Linked DNA regions of Homo sapiens. The protein of the gene in region 3 interacts with the protein of the main gene of each other region in a pairwise test. Each region holds a gene or a part of one and is shown on either strand. Other genes may lie near its edges.

The links. The genes of interacting proteins can lie anywhere in the genome.
Region 1: the proteins of NR1H2 (region 3) and NPY interact in a two-hybrid assay, tested with the Homo sapiens proteins (3 studies listed by BioGRID and IntAct).
Region 2: the proteins of NR1H2 (region 3) and CORO2A interact in binary tests that used the Homo sapiens proteins (3 or more experiments, as listed by UniProt).
Region 4: the proteins of NR1H2 (region 3) and DUSP12 interact in a two-hybrid assay, tested with the Homo sapiens proteins (one large-scale study listed by BioGRID and IntAct).

Annotation. Positions count from the first base shown.
Region 1 is NC_000007.14:24,282,799-24,286,989, forward strand, and holds the start of NPY (pro-neuropeptide Y preproprotein), read left to right. Parts: upstream 1-1,391; 5' UTR 1,392-1,477; intron 1,478-2,442; coding exon 2,443-2,630; intron 2,631-4,191. UniProt on the Homo sapiens protein: NPY is implicated in the control of feeding and in secretion of gonadotrophin-release hormone.
Region 2 is NC_000009.12:98,137,138-98,140,637, reverse strand, and holds part of CORO2A (coronin-2A), read left to right. Parts: intron 1-2,949; coding exon 2,950-3,066; intron 3,067-3,500.
Region 3 is NC_000019.10:50,379,457-50,381,672, reverse strand, and holds part of NR1H2 (oxysterols receptor LXR-beta), read right to left. Parts: intron 1,894-2,216; coding exon 1,794-1,893; intron 1-1,793. UniProt on the Homo sapiens protein: Nuclear receptor that exhibits a ligand-dependent transcriptional activation activity. Binds preferentially to double-stranded oligonucleotide direct repeats having the consensus half-site sequence 5'-AGGTCA-3' and 4-nt spacing (DR-4).
Region 4 is NC_000001.11:161,755,262-161,757,738, reverse strand, and holds the end of DUSP12 (dual specificity protein phosphatase 12), read right to left. Parts: intron 954-2,477; coding exon 792-953; 3' UTR 501-791; downstream 1-500. UniProt on the Homo sapiens protein: Dual specificity phosphatase; can dephosphorylate both phosphotyrosine and phosphoserine or phosphothreonine residues. Can dephosphorylate glucokinase (in vitro).

The DNA of each region.
Region 1 (4,191 bases), on a different chromosome or scaffold from region 3:
GTTGCCAAGTGAAAGGGATGTTGGTCTCCAAAATTATAGTTTGATCCCACAAACACACAAACACATACATGCAAAGGATTGTTTGCTTCACGGTTTTTGATATTTAATTCAATGCTGTTGGAACAGCACAAAAACTAAGTGTCAGTTTAACAGAATCACTTGTCCTTTTAGCATTAAAATAACATGGAACTTAATGCTTTAATTTCCCAACATGCCTTTTTATTTAGAAAGATTCAGACTTATATTTCATTTAGAAATAAAATGCCATTTTATTTAGAAAGATACAGGAGCATTCATTCACGGAACTTTCAGATCTCAGTCCACTGCATAAAATCTTGATCCTGTAATAATAGTTTCTGTATCTTGCATATTCATTCAACAGGTTTAACGCGATGAGCAAATTAATGTTCATCGTTTTTAACATGTTTCATCTTAATCAGAACCCACATTCTCAACGTTAATTGAACGTACATAGGACTATACAAGGGTTAGTAAATAAGACAGAAACTGTTGTTCATTTAACCACCGTCACTTTGGACCAAAAAAGAAAAAATATATATTTTTAAAATTGAGCTTAAAAGAGTCTCTAGAAGCTGGAAGCGTGGCTCTTTTTCAGCAAACTGGGGGAATAGGTTTACCGTGTTCCCCCTCTGGGGAATTTTGAGTCGCCACACTCATGTCTCGACCGAGCCTGGCTCGCTGCGTCTGAGCGAGTACTTGAGGAAGGCTGATCTAGAAAAACCAGCTGAGAGAAGGGGCAGAAGCCCCTGAAACCACGGGCGGGGGTGGGGTGGGGAGCGCAGCTTTGGGACCCTCTAGCCGGAGACTTCCGGCAGCTGCCTCCGACTTGTTCTAAGTACAGGAAAAATCTGTGCGCCCAGTTGCCTCACTCCAACAGCGCGCAGTTGTGCCCGGCGAGGATGCCGCGCTAGTCGTGGAGATGCCCCACCACAAAGAGGATTCAGGTGCTTCCTACTCCGGCACCCAGTGGGTTGGTAGTCCTGTTGGCAGGAGACAAGAATCGTCTGGGCTGCTCCTATCTCTGGCAGGACTAGACGGGGCGTGAAGGAAAGAAGGAAAGAAGGAAAGCAGGGATCGGGCACTGCCCGAGGGCAGATACTTGGGCTTTGGTGTTGTCCAGCGCGCTCGGAGTGCGCTGCCTCGCTCACGCGGTCCCAGGCCCCGCTTCTTCAGGCAGTGCCTGGGGCGGGAGGGTTGGGGTGTGGGTGGCTCCCTAAGTCGACACTCGTGCGGCTGCGGTTCCAGCCCCCTCCCCCCGCCACTCAGGGGCGGGAAGTGGCGGGTGGGAGTCACCCAAGCGTGACTGCCCGAGGCCCCTCCTGCCGCGGCGAGGAAGCTCCATAAAAGCCCTGTCGCGACCCGCTCTCTGCACCCCATCCGCTGGCTCTCACCCCTCGGAGACGCTCGCCCGACAGCATAGTACTTGCCGCCCAGCCACGCCCGCGCGCCAGCCACCGTGAGTGCTACGACCCGTCTGTCTAGGGGTGGGAGCGAACGGGGCGCCCGCGAACTTGCTAGAGACGCAGCCTCCCGCTCTGTGGAGCCCTGGGGCCCTGGGATGATCGCGCTCCACTCCCCAGCGGACTATGCCGGCTCCGCGCCCCGACGCGGACCAGCCCTCTTGGCGGCTAAATTCCACTTGTTCCTCTGCTCCCCTCTGATTGTCCACGGCCCTTCTCCCGGGCCCTTCCCGCTGGGCGGTTCTTCTGAGTTACCTTTTAGCAGATATGGAGGGAGAACCCGGGACCGCTATCCCAAGGCAGCTGGCGGTCTCCCTGCGGGTCGCCGCCTTGAGGCCCAGGAAGCGGTGCGCGGTAGGAAGGTTTCCCCGGCAGCGCCATCGAGTGAGGAATCCCTGGAGCTCTAGAGCCCCGCGCCCTGCCACCTCCCTGGATTCTTGGGCTCCAAATCTCTTTGGAGCAATTCTGGCCCAGGGAGCAATTCTCTTTCCCCTTCCCCACCGCAGTCGTCACCCCGAGGTGATCTCTGCTGTCAGCGTTGATCCCCTGAAGCTAGGCAGACCAGAAGTAACAGAGAAGAAACTTTTCTTCCCAGACAAGAGTTTGGGCAAGAAGGGAGAAAAGTGACCCAGCAGGAAGAACTTCCAATTCGGTTTTGAATGCTAAACTGGCGGGGCCCCCACCTTGCACTCTCGCCGCGCGCTTCTTGGTCCCTGAGACTTCGAACGAAGTTGCGCGAAGTTTTCAGGTGGAGCAGAGGGGCAGGTCCCGACCGGACGGCGCCCGGAGCCCGCAAGGTGGTGCTAGCCACTCCTGGGTTCTCTCTGCGGGACTGGGACGAGAGCGGATTGGGGGTCGCGTGTGGTAGCAGGAGGAGGAGCGCGGGGGGCAGAGGAGGGAGGTGCTGCGCGTGGGTGCTCTGAATCCCCAAGCCCGTCCGTTGAGCCTTCTGTGCCTGCAGATGCTAGGTAACAAGCGACTGGGGCTGTCCGGACTGACCCTCGCCCTGTCCCTGCTCGTGTGCCTGGGTGCGCTGGCCGAGGCGTACCCCTCCAAGCCGGACAACCCGGGCGAGGACGCACCAGCGGAGGACATGGCCAGATACTACTCGGCGCTGCGACACTACATCAACCTCATCACCAGGCAGAGGTGGGTGGGACCGCGGGACCGATTCCGGGAGCGCCAGTGCCTGCACACCAGGAGATCCTGGGGATGTTAGGGAAAGGGATTGTTTCTTTTCCTTCGCTCTATCCCAGGGCAGGACAGTATCAGGCACTTAGTCAGCTCTAGGTAAATGTTTGTACAGGGCACACTCTACACAAAATGGGTACCTTCCATTTTGTGCAACTACAGTCACAGAGTCGTGATCCCCAGATTCAGGTTCCCCAGGCTGGTAGGCTGGCAATCTCCTCTCACTCACCTCTTATGGTTTGTTGTGGTTCTTACGGCAGTGGGGCCCGGTCCAGAAATCTCGAAAGTACCCAGTGAAAGGGGCAAGAATGCGCCAGAGAAATGCTGTAGGGGGAAACGCTAGCAAGGTGTCTAGGAGAAACAGAACGACCACCAAAGAAAACCAAACCAAGGAGTAAACTGCAGGGTTGCCACAGACATTGTCAGACTTTCCGGCCTGCCCAGGGCTAATTGAATGACAGTATTTAGAAAAAGACAAATAGAGCTATTTTCTTTTCTTCTTCACTGTGTTTTTTTTGCAGTCTCACTCCCATATTTGAAAATTCTAGTCCCAATAATTAGAGATTTAGCCTGAAAACAGTTTATCTAAAATGCAGAGGTCTCCCTATTTTATAGCTGGTGAATTCTGAAAAGAAAGTGCCCACTTGGTATTTCATTAAGAAGAAACTTACGTTGGTCCAGTAACTTTAGGATGAATTCAGGGATTACATGGAATCTGAGAAATTGTAAACTTTATTCTGAACATTCCGAAAGTCAAAATGAAATGCCATATTTTCACTCTCAACATTGACAATTAAGGGAAAAATCAAATCCAAACTATTTTACAAATTACATAGGATTTAAATTTTGTTTTCAAAATTGGTTGATCTTAGTTCTAAATCATTTAATATCTTATTTTAATTACTGAGATTAAATGATTTTAGTCATTTGACCGTATCTAAAGGATAAGCCCTTTAGAAGCATTAATGTTAGTTAACATGTTTAAATTATATGTTTAAAGTATTGTGGGGTTTATATATTTATTTATTTAGTCCATATTTTTACTGTTTACAAGTCAGGGAGTAGTTGGAAAGGATCCAAAAGGGGGGAAGATTTATACTTTTAAAATAAAGTTTGCTTTTTCCTGTTTCATCAAAAAGGTATTTAACATCCTAAAACACTTTTGAAAAAGCCCCAATTTATATAGAATCTGAAAAACATGAAAATGCCAGAATTAAATAGTAGTTGTTTGTGATCCCTTGAAATCTGATCATTTTAATTAGCAAAAAGCAATAATATTTTATATTCCATACTTCCCAGAAAGTTAATTGATTCAAATTCTTGCTATGTTATGCCGTCATGCAGATCAAAGAGAACTTGTACAAACAAAAAGATATTAACTGTTTTTTCTAGAAAAACCTTTGTTAGTTATTTAGCTGTAGCATAATACACAGTAGAACTCATTTTTCCGAAGATGATTGCCATAAAGCTTTACCATTTTACAAAGCTCTAGCATTTTAAAATGTTTTCCTAGGCATTC
Region 2 (3,500 bases), on a different chromosome or scaffold from region 3:
CCCCATCTCTACAAATAATTTTAAAAATTAGCTGAGCTTGGTGACACATGCCTGTAGTTCTTAGCCTGGAACTTGGGAGGGTGAGGTGGGAAGATTGTCTTACCCCGAGTTCGAGGCTACAGTGAATCATGATTGCACCACTGCACTCCAGCCTGGACAACAGAGTGAGACCCTGTCTCTTAAAAAAAAAAAAAACAAGTACAGTGGTCTCTACACAGATGGGGAGGTGATGGAAGAAGAGAAGGTTGGGTGTTCCCTGAGTCCACCCTGTTCTTGAAAGTCCCTCTAGAAAAAATCCCAAGACTATTGATTCTGCAAAGTCAAGGACTATGTTGAGTGTTCACCTTGCAATCAGCCCCTCCAACAGCACCTGTCCCCTGGGCACCTCGGGAATATTTGTGGGATGGATGGATGTTGGCCAGTTTTCTTCTCAGCTGTCTCTTTCACTTAGATATAAAAATGGCTGGGGGAGCATTCTGGTGGGTGGCTCAAGAACCTGGAACTAGATGGTGGATGTGGGAGGTCGAGGGCCTGGGTCCTGGTCCCTGTTCTGCCAGGGCCATGCAATGTGATGTGCAAAATGAGCAGATTGGTCACTGCCAGTCCAAGGTTCTGTGACTGAACTGGTGTGGTTTCTCTATGACCCCAAGAAATCCAAGTCTCTTGGTGGAGTTGGAAATAGCTTCAGGGCTGTGTGGCATGGGCTGGGGGACCTGTATGTCCCTCCCAGCACCTATACAGGAATTCTCATTAGGAAAGGGGAAAATGAGGGAAATGCCCTTTCTATGTAATTGAGGTAGAATTCACATACCAGAAAATTCACCGTGTTTTGTTTTTTGTTTGAGACAGGGTCCCATTCTGTTGCCCAGGCTGGAGTGCAGTGGCACAATCATAGCTGACTGCAGCCTCGACCTCCCAGGCTCAAGCAATCCTCCCACCTCAGCCTCCCAAGTAGCTGGAACTACAGGTGTGCGACACCATGCCTGGCTATTTATTTATTTATTTATTTTTGAGACGGAGTCTCACTCTATTGCCCAGGCTGGAACGCAGTGGCACAATCTCAGCTCACCGCAACCTCCACCTCCTGGGTTCGAGTGATTCTCCTGCCTCAGTCTCCCAAGTAGCTTGGATTACAGGCATGTGCCACCACGCCCGGCTAATTTTGTATTTTTAGTAGAGGTGGGGTTTCACCATATTGACCAGGCTGGTCTCAAACTCCTGACATCAGGTGATCCACCCATCTTGGCCTCCCAAAGTGCTGGGATTACAGCCGTGAGCCACCATGCCAGGCCTAATTTTTTGATTTTTTGTAGAGACGGGGTTTTGTCCTGTTGCCATGTTGGAAAATTCACCGTTTTAAGGTGTATAGTTCAGTGGATCTTAGTATATTCACAAGGTTGTGAATATACTGTGAATAAACTGTCACCACCACCTAATTTCAAAATCATTTTGTCACTCCAAAAAGACACCCCTCACTCATTAGCAGTCACCCCCTATTGCCCCTTCTCCCAAGCCTGAGGCAACCAGAATCTTGCCTTCTGTCTCCATGAATGTATCGTTCTGCATTTTTCTTTCTTTTTTTTTTTTTTTTTGAGACAGAATCTTGCTCTGTCGCCAGGCTGTAGTGCAGTGGCATGATCTTGGCTCACTGCAACCTCTGCCTCCTGGGTTCAAGCGATTCTACTGCCTCAGCCTCCCGAGTAGCTGGGACTACAGGCGTGCACCACCACGCCGGGCTAATTTTTTGTATTTTAGTAGAGACAGGGTTTCACCATGTTGGCCAGGATGGTCTCGATCTCCTGACCTCGTGATCCACCCGCCTCGGCCCCCCAAAGTGCTGGGATTACAGTCGTGAGCCACCGCGCCCAGCCCGTTCTGCATTTTTCATATGCATTACTTAGGGTTCCAGATACCAGGTACCAGGGGGATGCATTAATGTGCTCAGGCAATGAAACCACATCTGGAACATCATCTAAGTGGAATCACACAACGTGTGGCCTTTTGTGCCTGGCCTCTTCTTCTAGTGTTTTCTAGGTTAATCCATGCTGTAGCAGGGACCAGTACTTCATTCCTCTTTTTAGGGACAGTAGTATTCTGCTGCATGAATATACTGCATTTTGTATGTCCATTCTTCACTTGATGGGCATTTGGGTTGTTTCCACTTTCTGATATTATGAAGAATATTGTTGTGAACATTGGTGAACCAGTTTCTTTTTTTTTTTTTTTGAGACATAGTTTCACTCTTGTCACCCAGGCTGGAGTGCAATGGCGCAATCAGAGCTCACTGCAACCTCCACCTCCCAGGTTCAAGTGTTCTACCTCAGCCTCCTGAGTAGCTGGGATTACAGGTGCATGCTACCACGCCCGGCTAATTTTTGTATTTTTAGTAGAGACAGGGTTTCACCATGTTGGCCAGGCTGGTCTCGAACTCCTGACCTCAGGTGATCCACCCACCTTGGCCTCCCAAAGTGCTGGGATTAGGTGAAACAGTTTCTTGCGGACTTATCTTTTCATTTTCCATGGAGATAGACCTAGGAGTGGAATTGCTGGGTCATGTGGGAACCGGTTAACCTTTTGAGGAACTGCCAGACTATTTTCCAAAAGAGCTGCACCATTTTACATGCCTACCAGCAGTGTGTGAGGGGAAATGCCCTTTTATTGAACATCTGCCATGTGCTAGGCACTGTGCCATACCTCCTCTCCCATGATCCTCACACCAACCTGTGAAATACCTGTGATTGCTCCCTTTTACTGAGGAGGACACCAGAGCTCAGAGAAGTGAAGTAACTCCCCCAGGATCCCACAGGGAATAAGAAGTAAGGCCTAGATTCACACCCAGCTCTGTCCCTTATGTTTTCCTGTTGACTGGTTGCTAACTGACTATGTGACTGTCCAGATGCTAATGTGGAATCCACCTCCTCCCCAACCCTCCTGGGCACTGTCTTGCAGACAGGGAAGTTGGACCCCCACTACCCAAAAGTCTGCGGGCACAGAGGCAACGTTTTGGATGTCAAGTGGAACCCTTTTGATGATTTTGAGATCGCCTCCTGTTCTGAAGATGCCACAGTGAGTGTCAGCCCCTGAGGGGCTTCCCCTTCCTGAAGAGTGGGATTGGGGTGGTTGGGGTGGAATGGTACCTGTTCTTGGCTCTGGTGCCCCTGACTCCATCGCGGAGGTGAGGTCACTGTGTGGGGAGGTGTTAAGTTAAGGTAGAGGAGGAGACATTCTTGGTGCTGTAGGACTAGCGGCACCACCCCTCCTCTCTATGGGCCTTAGTTCCCCCCCATATAAAATGGGCATAATAGTTCCACCCAGCTAATAAAGCCCAGTGAAAATGTATATTCCGATGGGAAAACCCATCCTTCGGGGAGCTATAAAAGGCTATGAGGGGCATTTTTATGGTGATCAGAAAAGATGTTCCACTTAATCCCATAGTGAGGAAGCGAGCTATAAAAGGCTGTGAGGGCCTTGGATGAATGTGGACACTAAAACCATTCCAG
Region 3 (2,216 bases):
TTCTTGTCCCCTTCACAAAGGCAAAGGGAAGCTTTTAAAACCTAGGTCACATCGTGCTGGTCCCAGCGCTGGCTTCCACTGCTCAAGGTAAAGCCCAAACTCATTCCCAAAACTGACTTGTTCATTCAGTCATCAAATGTCACTGAGTACCTGCCACGTGCCAGGCTCCAGCACTTACATTTGAGAGCCTAGGGGACCGGTCATAGACAAACACATTAGGAAGAGGCCCAGCCTGTCAGAGGGCTGTGAGTTCAATGGAACCAGGCAGTGCAGAGAAGTGTGAAGGGCCCTGCTGAGCCATGGTTCTATTTTACACAAGGCGGGCAGGGAAGGCTGCGCTCTGGGTGACGCTGGAGCAGTGACCAATCCGAAGGAGATGAGGGATTGTGAGGGTGACCAACGTCTGCTGTTCCCATGACTTGGGACGGGGGCTACCCAGGCCATGAGACTTTCAGTGTTAAAACTGGGAAGGTCCTGGGCAAACTAGGACCAGTTGGTCCCCCTAGTTCTGGGCAGAGGAAACTCCAAGTACACAGGCCCTTGGCTGCAGCATGCTGGATGGGTGCCAGTAAGAGGCCAGAGTGGCTGGAACAGGGGGAGAGGGTGAGAGCTGAGGGCAGAGAGTGAGCGAGGCCAGGTCCTAAAGGGCTTTGTGGGCCACAGAGAGGACTCTAGCTCTTCTCCCAGTGAGACGGGAGCCGCGGAGGGTTCTGAGCGGAGGAGGGAAGTGGGCAGCCTTAAGTGCTGACAGGACCCTTCTGCCTGTGCTGTGAGCAGCCCCATCAGGCAGGGGTGGAGGCAGGCGGCCCCTCAAGGGGACCCTGGCAGTGTTCCAGGGTGGTGGCAGAGGAGCGGCTGGGAAGGGGTAGGGTGGGATTCCCGACCTCCTCTCCACCCCATCTCCTTGTGCTCCAGCTGCCTGGGCCTCCCTGTAGTTCCTCCAAACCACCAGCTCTCCCCAACCTCAGGGCCTCTGCAATCGCCAATCTCCTCTGCCAGAAACGCTTCCCTGCAGCCCTGCCCTGCTAAGCTCATACTAAAAGGGTTACTGGGACCGTCTCGGGTGGTGAAAGGGCCGGAGTAAGAGGAAGGGGAGAGGGTGGGGTTTGGACAGATGTCGGGAAATACAGAGAGGTCCCCCAGAGATTGTGGGACAATGAGGGAGCGAGGCCCTGGTGCATGCTCTGCAGCACTAGCAATGCTCCTCCCACCCTTTTCCTAGGCAGTGCCTCTCACTGCCCAGGCCTTCTTCCAGAAGCCCACCCACGCAGGTTAGCGCTCTCAGAGGGCAGGAAGCAGTGCTCCCCTAGACAGTAAAGAAGGCTGCCCGCTTCACAATGGACCGAGCTCCAGCCCGCCTCCCTTGGGTGAGACCACGTTTTGGCGGGGGCGGGGAATGCTTTTCCTAATGCCCACCAAGATGCCTGATGTGGTAACAGGGCTCCTCCCATCTCAACTTCCACTGCAACCCAATGTACAGAGTCGGCACTCAATACATGCTTTTTTTAAAAAATAGAGACACGGTCTTCTCTGTCACCAGGCTGGAATGCCGTCGCACAATCACGGCTCACTATAGCCTCAAGCAATCTGCCCTCCTCAGCCTCGAGTGGCTGGGACTATTGGCGTGCACCACCACACGTGGCACATGCACTCTTACCTCACTCTCACCTTGGCTCAACCCTCACCCCAACTTTGGAGATAAAGAAACAGAGACTCCAACAGGGATGAGTTGGCCCCAGGTCTTCCAGCCAGCAGGGGCGCCAAGCCTCCCCGAAGCCTCCCCTGGGCCCTACCTGCACGGTGGAAGTCGTCCTTGCTGTAGGTGAAGTCCTTCAAGAAGGTGATACACTCTGTCTCGTGGTTGTAGCGCCTGGCTGTCTCTAGCAGCATGATCTAAGGGCGGCAGCGGGAGGGGGAGCTTGAGCCCTGTGACCCTTCAGCTGCTAGTCCCTCCCCTCCTGGCCCAAATGGGGGTCTAATCTCACCAGGATTATCCCTTGTCCCCTTCCCCCCTGTTCTCTCAGCCACACCAGCGTGCAGCCATCACGTGAGACAGCCCGAGCTCTTTCTCCACTTCAGGCTTCCGCACATGCTGCATCCCCATCTCCTTAGGATACTCTTTCCCCAGGTGAGCACAAGGTTTGGGGCACGGGGTTTGATCTGCTTTGTTCTTTGCCCCATATGCCAACACTTGGAATAGAGCCTGGCATACAGCA
Region 4 (2,477 bases), on a different chromosome or scaffold from region 3:
TTCTGATTCTTGTAAATGTTCAAATATCTAATTAGGTCCAATTGTAATTATTAATAATGAGTAAAATAATTCTAGTTTCTATACATCAGGTTAAAAAACTAATCTGGACGTATTACCTTTTCCAATACTCACATATTGGGCTACAAAATGACTTGATATATAGTAACTCTACATTTGTTTTCTTCATCATTAGAAACACATCTAACATTTATGTATTTCTTTATGTAGATCACTTCAAAAGGGATCTCAAACACTTTTCTAAAAATATAGATAATTGGGATTACTGAACAGTAATAGGAAAATTGCCTTTTAATCAGCGTTTTACTAATGGCCTTTCCATTTCCAAGAAAAAAATCCAGACATGTATGGGTTTACTAATGTCCCTTAAAAGAAAGAAAGTGAAATAATTCCAAAATATGTCCAAACAAATCTGCTTTATGTGTCTGGAAATAAAAGAATACCCATTTAAATATAATAGTTTCAAATTTTTGTACATAATTTTGTCTATACAGACCTTAAGATCATATAACATTCCAACAATCAAAACTTTTAAAAATATATGAAACACAGACAGTATCTGGTTATAAAAGATTTTAATATCAAATAAAATGTACATGATCAAAAGGCTTTGATTGCCATGTAAAGCATAGTTTCCAGGTTACATCAAGTGATTTTATCTTCTCCCATTTCAAATGAAATGTTGAAAGCACAAACAATCTGCCATGAATGATAAGAAGCAAAGGCAGCACATATCATCTGCAAGTTTCTTCCCAAGCTATAAAATATCATGTTCATATTTTTCCTGTTTGTGATCCCAAAACAGGCAATATTTTCATTTCATCCACTCTATTCTTATGTATTTGAAAAGCAGGTGTTATCCACCTACCACAAGAGCACTGTTCACCATACCAGTTGAAGGAACCCAACTTGGCACTGCATTTTGGGCAAAGAAGCTGAAATAAAGCAAATGTGTTACTTTATTCATTCACTTTTATACAAAACAAATCATTATCTTTGGCAATCAATATAGGATATAAAAACAAGACACGATCCCCACGTTGAGTTTATAATCTAATCAGTGAGATAAAATGCATTGGAAATTTACTGTAATAGATAGTAGACTACAATTATCTCATAGGAAGAATGTTGTATTCAGGGAGCTTGAAGGGAGAAAAGTGAAGCTTGAGATTTGATTAAGGAAGGTTTCATGGATGTGGCATATATATATATATATATATATATATATATATATATAGCTTTTAAATCAGTTTGTAATTTAGGACTTCAAATGAAAATGATCACGGCTAAAGTATAGAAAAGCATGTTAGGATTTTCATGCTGTATTACTAACTGTGTGTATTGACAGCATATAAGTCAGATTCTTAGCTATTTAAAGACAAACTGATATTCCAGGAAAATAGGTAAATCAAAAAAGCCTAATAAGGCAACTGCATTTTCTTCTAATGTAGTTAGTTATAGCATTAATTTTTATGTTTAGCTCTTTGATTTATGCATGGTATAAGGTAAGAGTTTTTATTTTTAATCTTGAGCTATAGAAAACTAGACATAAAACTCAGAAGCAGGCTGAGTGTGGTGGCTCATACCTGTAATTCCCAGCACTTTGGGAGGCCAAGGCGGGCAGATCACCTGAGGTCAGGAGTTTGAGACCAGCCTGGTCAACATGGTGAAACCCCGTCTCTACTAAAAACACAAAAATTAGTTGGGCATGGTGGCGGATGCCTGTAATCACAGCTACCTGGGAGGCTGAAGCAGGAGAATATTTGAACCCAGAAGGCGGAGGTTGCAGTGAGCCAAGATCACACCACTGCACTCCAGCCTGGGCAACAGAGCAAGACTCCGTCTCAAAAAAAAGAAATTCAGAAGCCATAAATAAAAAAACTAACAAATTTTATTATGTAAATATCCTTCATTTTAATATGACAAAACATAAAAAATCTGATAAGCAATAGACTGAAGAAAATAGTTGCAATATATTAGATGAACTATTAACATCTAGAATATATAGAGGTCCTACAAATGAGTAAGAAAGAGACAAAACCCATAGGCAAATGGGCCTAGGAATATGAAAGCAATTTATAGAAAAGAAAACAGTAAATGGCTGGTAAATATATAAAGATGGTGGTTGATGACTATTTTCATAAAATTCCAATTAAACATTTTAGGATTAACATTTTTTACCCCACAGACTGACAAAATGTTACCAGTTTTATAGTATCTATTATGTCAAGGATATGGAGTAACGGGTACATGCATTCAGTTACTGAAAACCAAATTTGTATGGGCATTTTGAATATCAGCCTGGAATATCACTAATATTTAAAATACATTCTTCGAGCCAGGAATTCCACTTCTAGGTACATATTCTACAGAAAAAAATCAAATATGTATACAAATAAGTATGCACAGGATTTAGAATCTTACATAAAAATGTATTTAACTTGGCTGGAGTGTGTGTG